2 linked regions of the Homo sapiens genome follow. The protein of the gene in region 1 purifies or fractionates together with the protein of each later gene. This does not show direct contact. Each region holds a gene or a part of one and is shown on either strand. Other genes may lie near its edges.

Region 1 (4,666 bases):
ATAGGTCTGGAATCTTGCCCACAGAGAGAGGCAATTTCTATTTTTATTGCATGTTTCAATGTCTTAAAGGACTAGTTGAGTAGAGAACAATTCCACACTGCCTGAGAGAGAAGGACCCAGCCTTTAGAATCATGGATACCTCAAAGAGCAAAAGGATGTGAAACATGCGTTCATTTCTTACATGAACTGAAATCAGTATGCTAACCTGAAAAAACACCACAGGCACTGTTCTATTGCAAAACCTCACTTCTTTATAGATTAGTGATTTTCAAGTAGGTGAATCTAATTCTACACTCCTATCCACTCTAAATGGACCCACTAGACTATGGTCAATGGTACAATACTGGCATTTCCATAAACATATTGTGACTAAATTCAATTTTAAAATGTAAAAACTAGATACAATTTGAGTTCTCATGCTCATCTCCAACCCCACTCAAAATCAAATTGTGGGTAAATAAGAAGCTTGTTACTGTTATGAACATTTATTATGGTAGAACTTAAAGAACCAAGTATTGACATCCACTTGTACTTGAGCTGTACTTGTGCTCTTGGATGATTGCTATTGCATTTTCTAAAATGGCCAAAGCTTTTTATCGGAATGCTTCTCACACTAGGATCTTCTAGCAGCCCTTATCACTCACAAGAACTAAGTCCTGCTGCCCTAGGCCTATGGCATACACTGCATGTAATGAGTGAACTTCGGAGAGAAGTTATGCATCTAGAATGGCTGTAGTTATGCACCAGCCTGGAGAGGAGTGAGAAAGTCACTCACAGTTTTCCAAAGGGCTAATTTCTCTCTTGTCAATCTGGTTGAGAAAGTCTCTGAGGAGACGTATGGAAAAGTTAGCATTTTTCAAGCCTAGGAGCCTGTCCAGTGCATCCTACAGCAAGCAGAATGTACTAACAAATTCTTTGTGTTTGACTGACATGAAAAACTAGTTGCATGCAAGAATCTGAGACTTGGAAATTGCATTCCTTTCATCAGATTGTTAGTGGAGCACCCTTTATGATAGAAAACAGAAAGTATGTTTGGAGTGTGGTCCCAAATGCATCATCGAGAAGTTAATTTATAAAAAGAAATGTATTACATTGGTCTCGCTGAACAAGGGCTAATGATACTCAGTAGAAGTTGGAGGTGAAAAGTGTGAGTAGAAACAGGCTCAACATGACCATCGTTCATTTTATAAACAAATGGTGACCAAGATACTACAGCTGTGTGTGCAGGACAGAAAATTCTGCCGTCTTCCAGCCATGCCCACACACATAAATAGCCTTCCCTGTCAGGACAGCTCTGGTGTGGAGGCAGAATGGGGCATACAGCCTGCATGAGCACGCGCCCTCCCCCAGGCAGGGATCCCCAGACACTTATATTATTTACACTGGAGAAAGCAAACAGGCTGCCCACAAAGAATGATTAGGAAGCTTGAAGTGTTTTATTCTGTACTTTTTAAAAGTGTAGATTGTCATAGATTCATCTGTATAAATAATTTTCCTGGCAACAGTAGTTCACTTTTCACTTCCCATTCAAAATCTTCAGAACTTCTATTTGAATGCACTTAAAACTTTCCCCTGCTTTTGTTTTATATAATACATTCTCATTATAATTAGGTGACTCATGAAATTAAAGAATTTCTTTTACAAGAAAGTTCAAAATCTTTAGTAAAGATGCTAGTAGCATGCATTAGGGCAAATTAGCACTGTCTTGGTCAGCAATCATTCTAACAGTATTTAAAGAAAGAAAAACACTATTTTTCTTTCATTTTTCCTGAAAGAAAGTGGGAGAAAATAGGCATAGCTGCACCATTCAAAGCACAAAATAATCATTTAGAAAATAAATACCTACGGCATACCCGACACACTTTTATGTCAATTTCCTCAACTGTTTAAAAATGGCCTCAGGCGTGGCTGCGTTTCCACCTGCCTTCTGCCAGCAACCTCTGGGGCCCTTGCCCACTGAGCCTGCCTCTGGAGGGCAACTGCTCTTTGTCACTTGTCATGAGGCCTGAAGCTTGATATCCTGGGCTTCACATGCAATTTCGGAAACTCAAATGACACTACATAGACTTGCTGTAAATCTTTTTTTAGTGCAGTTTGGCAAATATCCCAAATGAAATTCAACTCTAAGTTAAAAGTATCAAAGAGATAGAGCTAAGTGCTCTGGCCCAGAGCTAAGACCCTCTGGGCCGCCCAGAGGCTCTGGAGAGCTTAGGAATAGCAAACCCAATTGCCCAGGAGCTAAAGGGACTGCAGGATACCTGTTGCTTTACCACTACAGAACAGTTACCCCCAGAGACAGCCCTCAGCGACCAGATTTCTGGGCTGCTGTGAAGATCTTAAAGGCCCACAACCCTTGTCCCCGCCACCCCCAAACTCAGAAAGTGGGAGTTATCCCCACTGTAACTCACAGTGCTAAGAACAGCAAGCATTGAACACGGAAACCTGATCTCTCCTCCATCGTCCACCTCCTGGGACTCCAGTCGCTCCCACCTCCTGGGACTTTCAGGTTCTATCTGCTGGTGGGAAGTGCACTTTGGTTTTGGTTTCTAAGAAAAAGATCACTACACAGCTGTCTGGAGGCAGGCACCCGGGCACTAGATGGCCAAGTCCTCCGGTCTGGCCCGCCCGCTGCTGGCCCTGCTGGCCTTGCTGGCCCGACCTGGGTCTCCGAGGGGCAAGGGCGGCTGGTGCATCTGGGCCGCGGTGGTCACGGCCTGCTCCTCCTCCTCGGGGGTCCCTGCCAGGGCGCTCCCCTCCAGACTGCTGCCGCTCCCATCCAGCAGCAGGGGCGCCGCGCCCGCCTCAGCCTCGTGCGCGAGTGGCGGGGAGCTGCTGCCGACGGGGCTGGGGGCTGCAGGCGTGGACGCTGCCGGGTAAGCCTTGAGCGCCGGGGGCTGCCGCTCGGCCGCCTGGTTGGCCCAGTTCTGCTCAGTCATCAGCAGGTGGTGGTGGCCGTTGTAGAGCTTGGCGGACTGGCCCTTTCCGCGCGCCTCGGTCAGGGCTAGCAGTTTGAAGTCCGCGGCTGGTGGCGGGGCCCCGGGGTAGCCCACGGCGCGGGCCTGTCCCAGGGGCGCAGCGGTGTGCGCATAGTAGGGTGGGAACCCGATGGCAACGGCGGGCGGCCGGGAGCTGGGGGGCAGGGGCGGGGGATCGGCTGTCCCCAGCGGGGCCTCGGAGGCGTCCGGGCCGAGGCGGCTGGTCACGCCCTGCTTGAGCTTCTTCCAGCCCAGGTGGTAGATCTCCAGCATGTTGAGCAGCAGGGACGCGCAGGCCACCGCCAGCATGAAGATGATGAAGATGGTCTTCTCCGTGGGCCTGGAGATGAAGCAGTCCACCGTGTTGGGGCAGGGCCAGCGGTCGCAGCGGTAGAGCGGCTTCAGCTCGAAGCCGTACAGAAAGTACTGGCCGGCGATGAAGCCCACCTCGAACAGCGTCTTGAAGATGATGTTGAAGACGTAGGTCCGCAGCAGCGCCCCGGCCATGCGCACCCTGCCGCGGTCGTCCCGCGACGAGGGATTGTCCTGCGGTGGCTCCTTGGGGCTGGGGCTCTCTCTCTTCAGCTGCTCCTCCTCCTCCCTCTCTTTCTTCTTCTCTTCCATGCGCACGATGTGCAGCACGTGGCCCAGGTAGATGAGGGTGGGCGTGGACACGAAGATGATCTGCAGCGCCCAGAAGCGGATGTGGGAGATGGGGAAGGCCCTGTCGTAGCAGACGTTCTCGCAGCCCGGCTGCTGGGTGTTGCAGGTGAAGTCTGACTGCTCATCGCCCCACACGTCCTCCGCCGCGGCCCCCAGCACCAAGATGCGGAAGATGAACAGCACGGTCAGCCAAACCTTGCCGATGACCGTGGAGTGCTCCTGTGCATTTTCTAAGAGTCTTCCCAGAAAGCTCCAGTCGCCCATTGCTTCAGATTCCTAACCTGTAAGAGGAAAATGCTCATGAACACCGGGCTGCAACGGCTGAGTGCCGGGTCCGCACCCATGGGCGGCGGCAGCGGCCTGGATGGTACTGGGATGGGGCTGATGGGCAGCTTCTCCACAGGACAGGCATCGCAGCTCCCCAGGACCTGGACGAGCAGGCACTACACAAGTGCAAGCGTCCATGAGGAACCACAGGTTAAACTCTTCATTTCAGAGAGGAGGAAGCCAGAGCCAGAAGAGAAAATGCCCTCCTCTGGCCTCCAGACTGCTCAAGCCCTCTCCCTGAGGCTGACCCTACAGGAGCTCTGGGGCTCTGCGGCCCCTTAGGCCACTTCTGAATCATGACCTTTCTGTTCAGGTGGGATTAGAGCAACCTCTTCCCAAATTGCTGCCATCCCCATGCCCATGCCACCTTCAGAACTTCTGCCATGTTAATCTGATACCTCTTCTACTATTTGCTTTTTCTGTCTTCACATCAACTCTTTATGCTTAAATTTATCTCAACTAGGAAAGTTTACATTACTACTGTCAATGGAAAATCGGCACTAATACCTTCAATGGATGGTAGCTTTAAGAGTAAATATATTCCAACTCAGCCAGCTTTATTTTGGAAGTAAGGAAATAAAGACTTACTCCCCTTTTTTAAAAAAGAATAAATTCCTTGATGACAATGAAGTTGATACAGTCTATGGGATATTGCTTGCCAAAAGCTCTGGATGTAAGCTCTCTTGTTACAAAGAGGAAGA
Region 2 (5,017 bases), on another chromosome or scaffold:
TCAGTACATTGCTGCTGCCTGGCCAAATATCTTTCAAGTTTCAAGTTTGAGACTTAATTATCTTTGTTTGAAAAAAAACAAAAAAAAGCCCAGGAAACCCCAACATGAGACTTAATTGTCTCCAAATGCCTAAAGGTTTAGTGGAGAATTAACAGGCTAGCAGCCACAATTCAGAGGAGTGACAGAGCTCTGGTGAGAAGAATCCTTGTTGATTAGCTTTTTCACTACACCCTGATGGTCTCAACTAACGACAAATAGACAGTTGTTCTATTGATATAAGTTGGAAGAATGACAATCACTTTTAAGATTATAACAGGTTGAATCTACAACATACACATATTTCAAAACATCATGTTTTTCAATTTTTATCTTTTATTTTTAATTTTTGTGGGTACAGAGATGTATGCTTTAGGGGATGGATACCCCATTTACCATGATGTGATTAAAATATCATGTTTTACATGACAAATTATATATAATGTTTATTTGTCGATTAAGAATAACGAATTTAAAAAGATTGTAACAGGCTACTAAAGTACACCAAAAGGGAACAATATGCAATTTAACAATGATACAAAAAATGAACATTTTGGCAAGATTGAGTCTGTAGTTTCAAAGATAGAAATGTTTCATTATAAAAAACCAGGAAGACAGATACACAAAATACACAAATTGCTTTCTAATAATATAATACAGTAAGAACCAACAGCATTGATTACTCTGTCCCCTTCATATTTTAATGACTTCAAATAAAACTATGTTTTGTTTCACAGATTTAAAGAGCAAAAGGCATAACATATTAAGAATGCAGTTTTAAAAATATTGATCCTACACATATGTGTAGTATAAACCCTAGTTAAGCTTCTCATTTTAATTTTAAAGCTTTTTAAAGAAAATGCTTGAATTACAGAACTGGAACTTCAAAGAGATGATCTGATCCAGCCACTCTCCCTCTAGGGAAAGAGATGAATATTTTTATTCCAAAAATATTTATACATTATACATACACTTTAAAACAAGATTATATATCATATTTTTCTTTTTCCAACAATGATTGACATGTTTATGTTAACAAATATCAAATCTTTCACAAATGCCCCTTTTTCTTTGTAAACCCAAACATTATATATCCTATGCCACTATTTTTATTTTCCATTACTAATTCGTCTGCTGTCTCTGTTATTTAGAAAAGTAGAAGTAAAATAATAATAGCTCATCTTATAAAAAGAGATGCCAATTTTAAGGGAATATTCTCATGCTGAAGGCATGAGAAGAGTCACTTCAGCTCTTTTTTTGTTTTGTTTTTTTGAGACAGAGTCTCGCTCTGTCGCCCAGGCTGGAGTGCAGTGGCGCGATCTCGGCATTGATATATGGGGTCTAAATTGCAATAAATTTGTGGGAATCACCTTTCAAATGTAGAGTATTGGGAAGCAGTGAATGAGGACACTAGGGTGTGGGAGAGGATAGTCAAGCATCAGCTGAAACAGTTGAGAGACTAGCATCTTTGAATTCCCCAGTGTTTGGCATACTGTTGGTACTTAATATATGTTCCATTAACGCATGAACAAACAAACAAAATTTTACTCAGAAGCTACCACTGGTAACTTTAAAGCCATGTAGTCACATTGGGTAGGATGTAAACTTTGCAACAAGTTAACTGGAAACCAGGAACTTATTTGTGAAACCTCTCCCAATAATAAAATGAGTTGTGCTTAAAGTGTTCGTTTGTGTTCGTTTGTGGTAGTTTGTGGTAGTGGTAAAGGTTAAGGTAAGAGAAAAGGTAGTGAACCAGGAGTTGGGGAGAAAACGTTGGCTCCCAAACTTGTGTTTGTTTTATCCCTCATATAAATTTCAGGTTTAAAAAATTAAATATGTGCTTGTATGTTTTTTGAAGTCAAAATACAGAAGGATATAAGTTAAAAACTTAAAGGCTACCTCTTTCACTTACTAGAAGTAACCACTGTTAACAGTTTAGTAAGCATACTTCAAGACCTCATTCTCTATATATCATAATCTACATTATGCTTGTATTAAAATATATAAAGGCCTCTTTAAAGTGGGTTACTATACATACTGTTGTGCATTTTAAAATTCACTTGAGCAGATAACACAGATAGTCTTCTATCTCAGTGCACAGGATTTATTTCATTCTTTTAGTGCATGCACAGTAATCTACAGTAGGGGCATGTCATAAGTTATTTATCCATTCCCGCTTAGTTGAACACTCAGGTTTTCCCTCAAATTCTGCAGTTATAAGCAATGCCGCAATTAACTTCCTTGTACATACACTTAGCTGTCTAAGTATATCTGTGGGAGATATTCTCAGGACTGGAGTTGTTGGTTCGAAGGATATTTATTTTTAAAGTTTTGAATAGCTAATGGCAAGTTAAAGGATTTGATTTTTCTTGGGAAAAGTAACATACCTTGGGCATTGGCATAAAAAAGAGATGTCAAGATACTAATGAGATGAGTCTAGGTACTGTATGCCCCCTTTATGTTTATTTATCAAATAGTTTTTTATTCTTCTTCTCTAAAGCATACGTAGACAATATCTTTATAAAGAAATTCTGGATTATTTATTCAAAAGCAATGATTGTATCTGATCCATTATTTTCTTCCACTAAAGAACAAAAACAAACAAACAAACAAAACCTTCTTGGCTTATTTGCTAGCCTCCTGCCTTTAAAATATTCCTGCAAATATTTTACAATTGGAATTGAATAATGTCAGTATGTTCCATTCCTACTACATATTACTTTTTTTTCCCTCTGAAAAGAGGAGTAGCTTGTGCATCATGTATCGTCAGCTGTGTAATTTCTTGTTTTGTCCATATTCCATTCAAACTGCTTGTGGAGGTATGTAATCAATGCTCAAGATCTGGACAGCTTTGCTCAGCTAAGACACCGGGAGCTTTTATTCTTTTCACAGATTTTATCATTTTGTGTCCCTTTACACTATCATTTTTAAAAAATCCTTTAACCTTTCTCAGTATAATCTGGTGTCCCAAAAGAAAAGAAGTTAAGGCACCTAGAGCATTTTTAACAAATTCGGAGTGTCTTTTATTCCACGCTTAATGTATCTACCTTTGGCAAGTTATCTGCTTTTGTAAGGTTTTACATTTATTTTCACAACATACAGTGTCCCTTTCTAAACATTTCATAACCTTTATTTTTATATGCATAAATGAATGACCCCACTATCCAATTCCATATTAGTGAATTTTATTCTACGTTATGTCTATCTTTATCCAAATGATATCTGTCAATTCAGATTGTTTTCAAACAAATTCTAAACATCTTGTTTGTATATTATTTTCCAGATATCCCAGTTCTGTCTAAAGAGAAGCTCCTTCTGACTATACACATTGTTGTGTACAAGAAGGCAGTCATTTCTCTAAACACCTTTTATTCTCTAATCTTCTAGTGAAGTATGCATACATTAAAAGAAAAAGAGAGAGGTTCATTATCTTCCAAAATTCTCATCTGCCTTCTATATATCTACTTTTTGCTTTCACTCATAAATCTTTTCCCCTATTTAAGAAGCCTTTCAAAGATTCCTGCACACTCGAAATAAGTCCTTTTACTGTAAAATCATTTTCTTTCACCAAACTTGTACTCACTCTTCTTGAAAGATTTACATGAACATTTTTGTCTGTTTCCATATGCTAGTATACCATATACCTATGCAGCTCTGCTTTAGGCAAATTGTTCAGTTTCTAATTAGTTTTTCAGAATGTCCTTAAAACTGCTTCTGTTGATTTAAACTCATCATCTTTCCAGTCTCTCTATCTCAACACTTATCTTAGTTCTCTACTTTTCTGTCTCTGTGCCTTGGGTTTGATTTAAGAGGGGTTTGTCTGTCCTCAATTTCTTTAATATTTCCCTTTCTTCTTCTATAAATCTCCCCATATCTTCCTTTATTTTCTTCTCCATATCCTGGAAAAATAGCGTCATTTAATGCTATTTTGATGCTGGAAAATAGCATTTTAATGCTATTTTTAATGTTTAATGTTTTAATGTTTAATGTTTAATGTTTTTAAACATGTTTTTTCTCTTCACTGTATTAAACTTACCCAATGTATCAAAACTTCAACCTCTATTAAATAGAGAGAGGTACATATCTAATACCAGGAAACAAAGAAAGTCTGAAACATCTAATGAGTTTGATAAATTTTAAAATGATCATATTAAAACAGAATAGAATATGACTTGATATTACAGGATTATAACATGGAAACCAGACAAGCTATGAATAATTTGTATAAAAATTACTTGGATGTCAATAGCTTTCAAGTGAAATATAATGCTATTGTGAAAAAAAGCTACATTGATACTGTCAGGTATTTAAAAGGAATTTGATAAACAAATAATTCAACTAAATTCTACATTAGAACAAACTTACTAGCATATTATATCTAGTTTTGATCATTGTCATTTTAAGTAGAGAAAAAACGAAACACATCCTGAAAAGAGTAGTTAAAATTATAATGGAAAATATGTTCTATGAACAAAGATTAAGGAACTAAAGAAAGTTAAGAAATGGCCTTACTCCAGTGTTATGTAAATGTAATGTATTAGATAAAAACAATACCAGCCATGTTTTTATGAGGCTGCTCTTCATTTTATTCAAAGGACAGAAAAAGGAACAGATGCACTTAAGTTAAAACAAATATATAGGCTGGACATAAATGTTTATATTAATTTTAAACTCTGTGCTCATTATTATATAACACTGCTTAGACTTTAAAAACGTAAAGACTTTCCATCACTGCAATATAGCACAACTTCTGGTTTGCAGAGACTTCTTTGATCTGATCCCAACCTTATTTTTTATTAGTTCCCTATATACTCTGACCCGTCTTATCAGGTTGTTCTCCAAACGATCACATTGGTGATAAAAATTTTTTTTCACCTGGAATATCCTTCCTCCTTCAAAGACTAGCTTAAATTAGACCTCCTTTGTTGTTGTTGTTTTGTAGAGAAGGGGTTTCATCATGTTACCCAGGCTGGCCTCAAGG

Evidence for each region.
Region 2: the proteins of GJA3 (region 1) and KLHL13 purify together in Homo sapiens (affinity purification with mass spectrometry; one large-scale study listed by BioGRID and IntAct). This does not show direct contact.

The regions. Positions count from the first base shown.
Region 1 is NC_000013.11:20,139,387-20,144,052, forward strand, and holds part of GJA3 (gap junction alpha-3 protein), read right to left. Parts: intron 3,920-4,666; 5' UTR 3,903-3,919; coding exon 2,595-3,902; 3' UTR 1-2,594. UniProt on the Homo sapiens protein: Structural component of lens fiber gap junctions. Gap junctions are dodecameric channels that connect the cytoplasm of adjoining cells. They are formed by the docking of two hexameric hemichannels, one from each cell membrane.
Region 2 is NC_000023.11:117,920,897-117,925,913, forward strand, and holds part of KLHL13 (kelch-like protein 13), read right to left. Parts: intron 1-5,017. UniProt on the Homo sapiens protein: Substrate-specific adapter of a BCR (BTB-CUL3-RBX1) E3 ubiquitin-protein ligase complex required for mitotic progression and cytokinesis.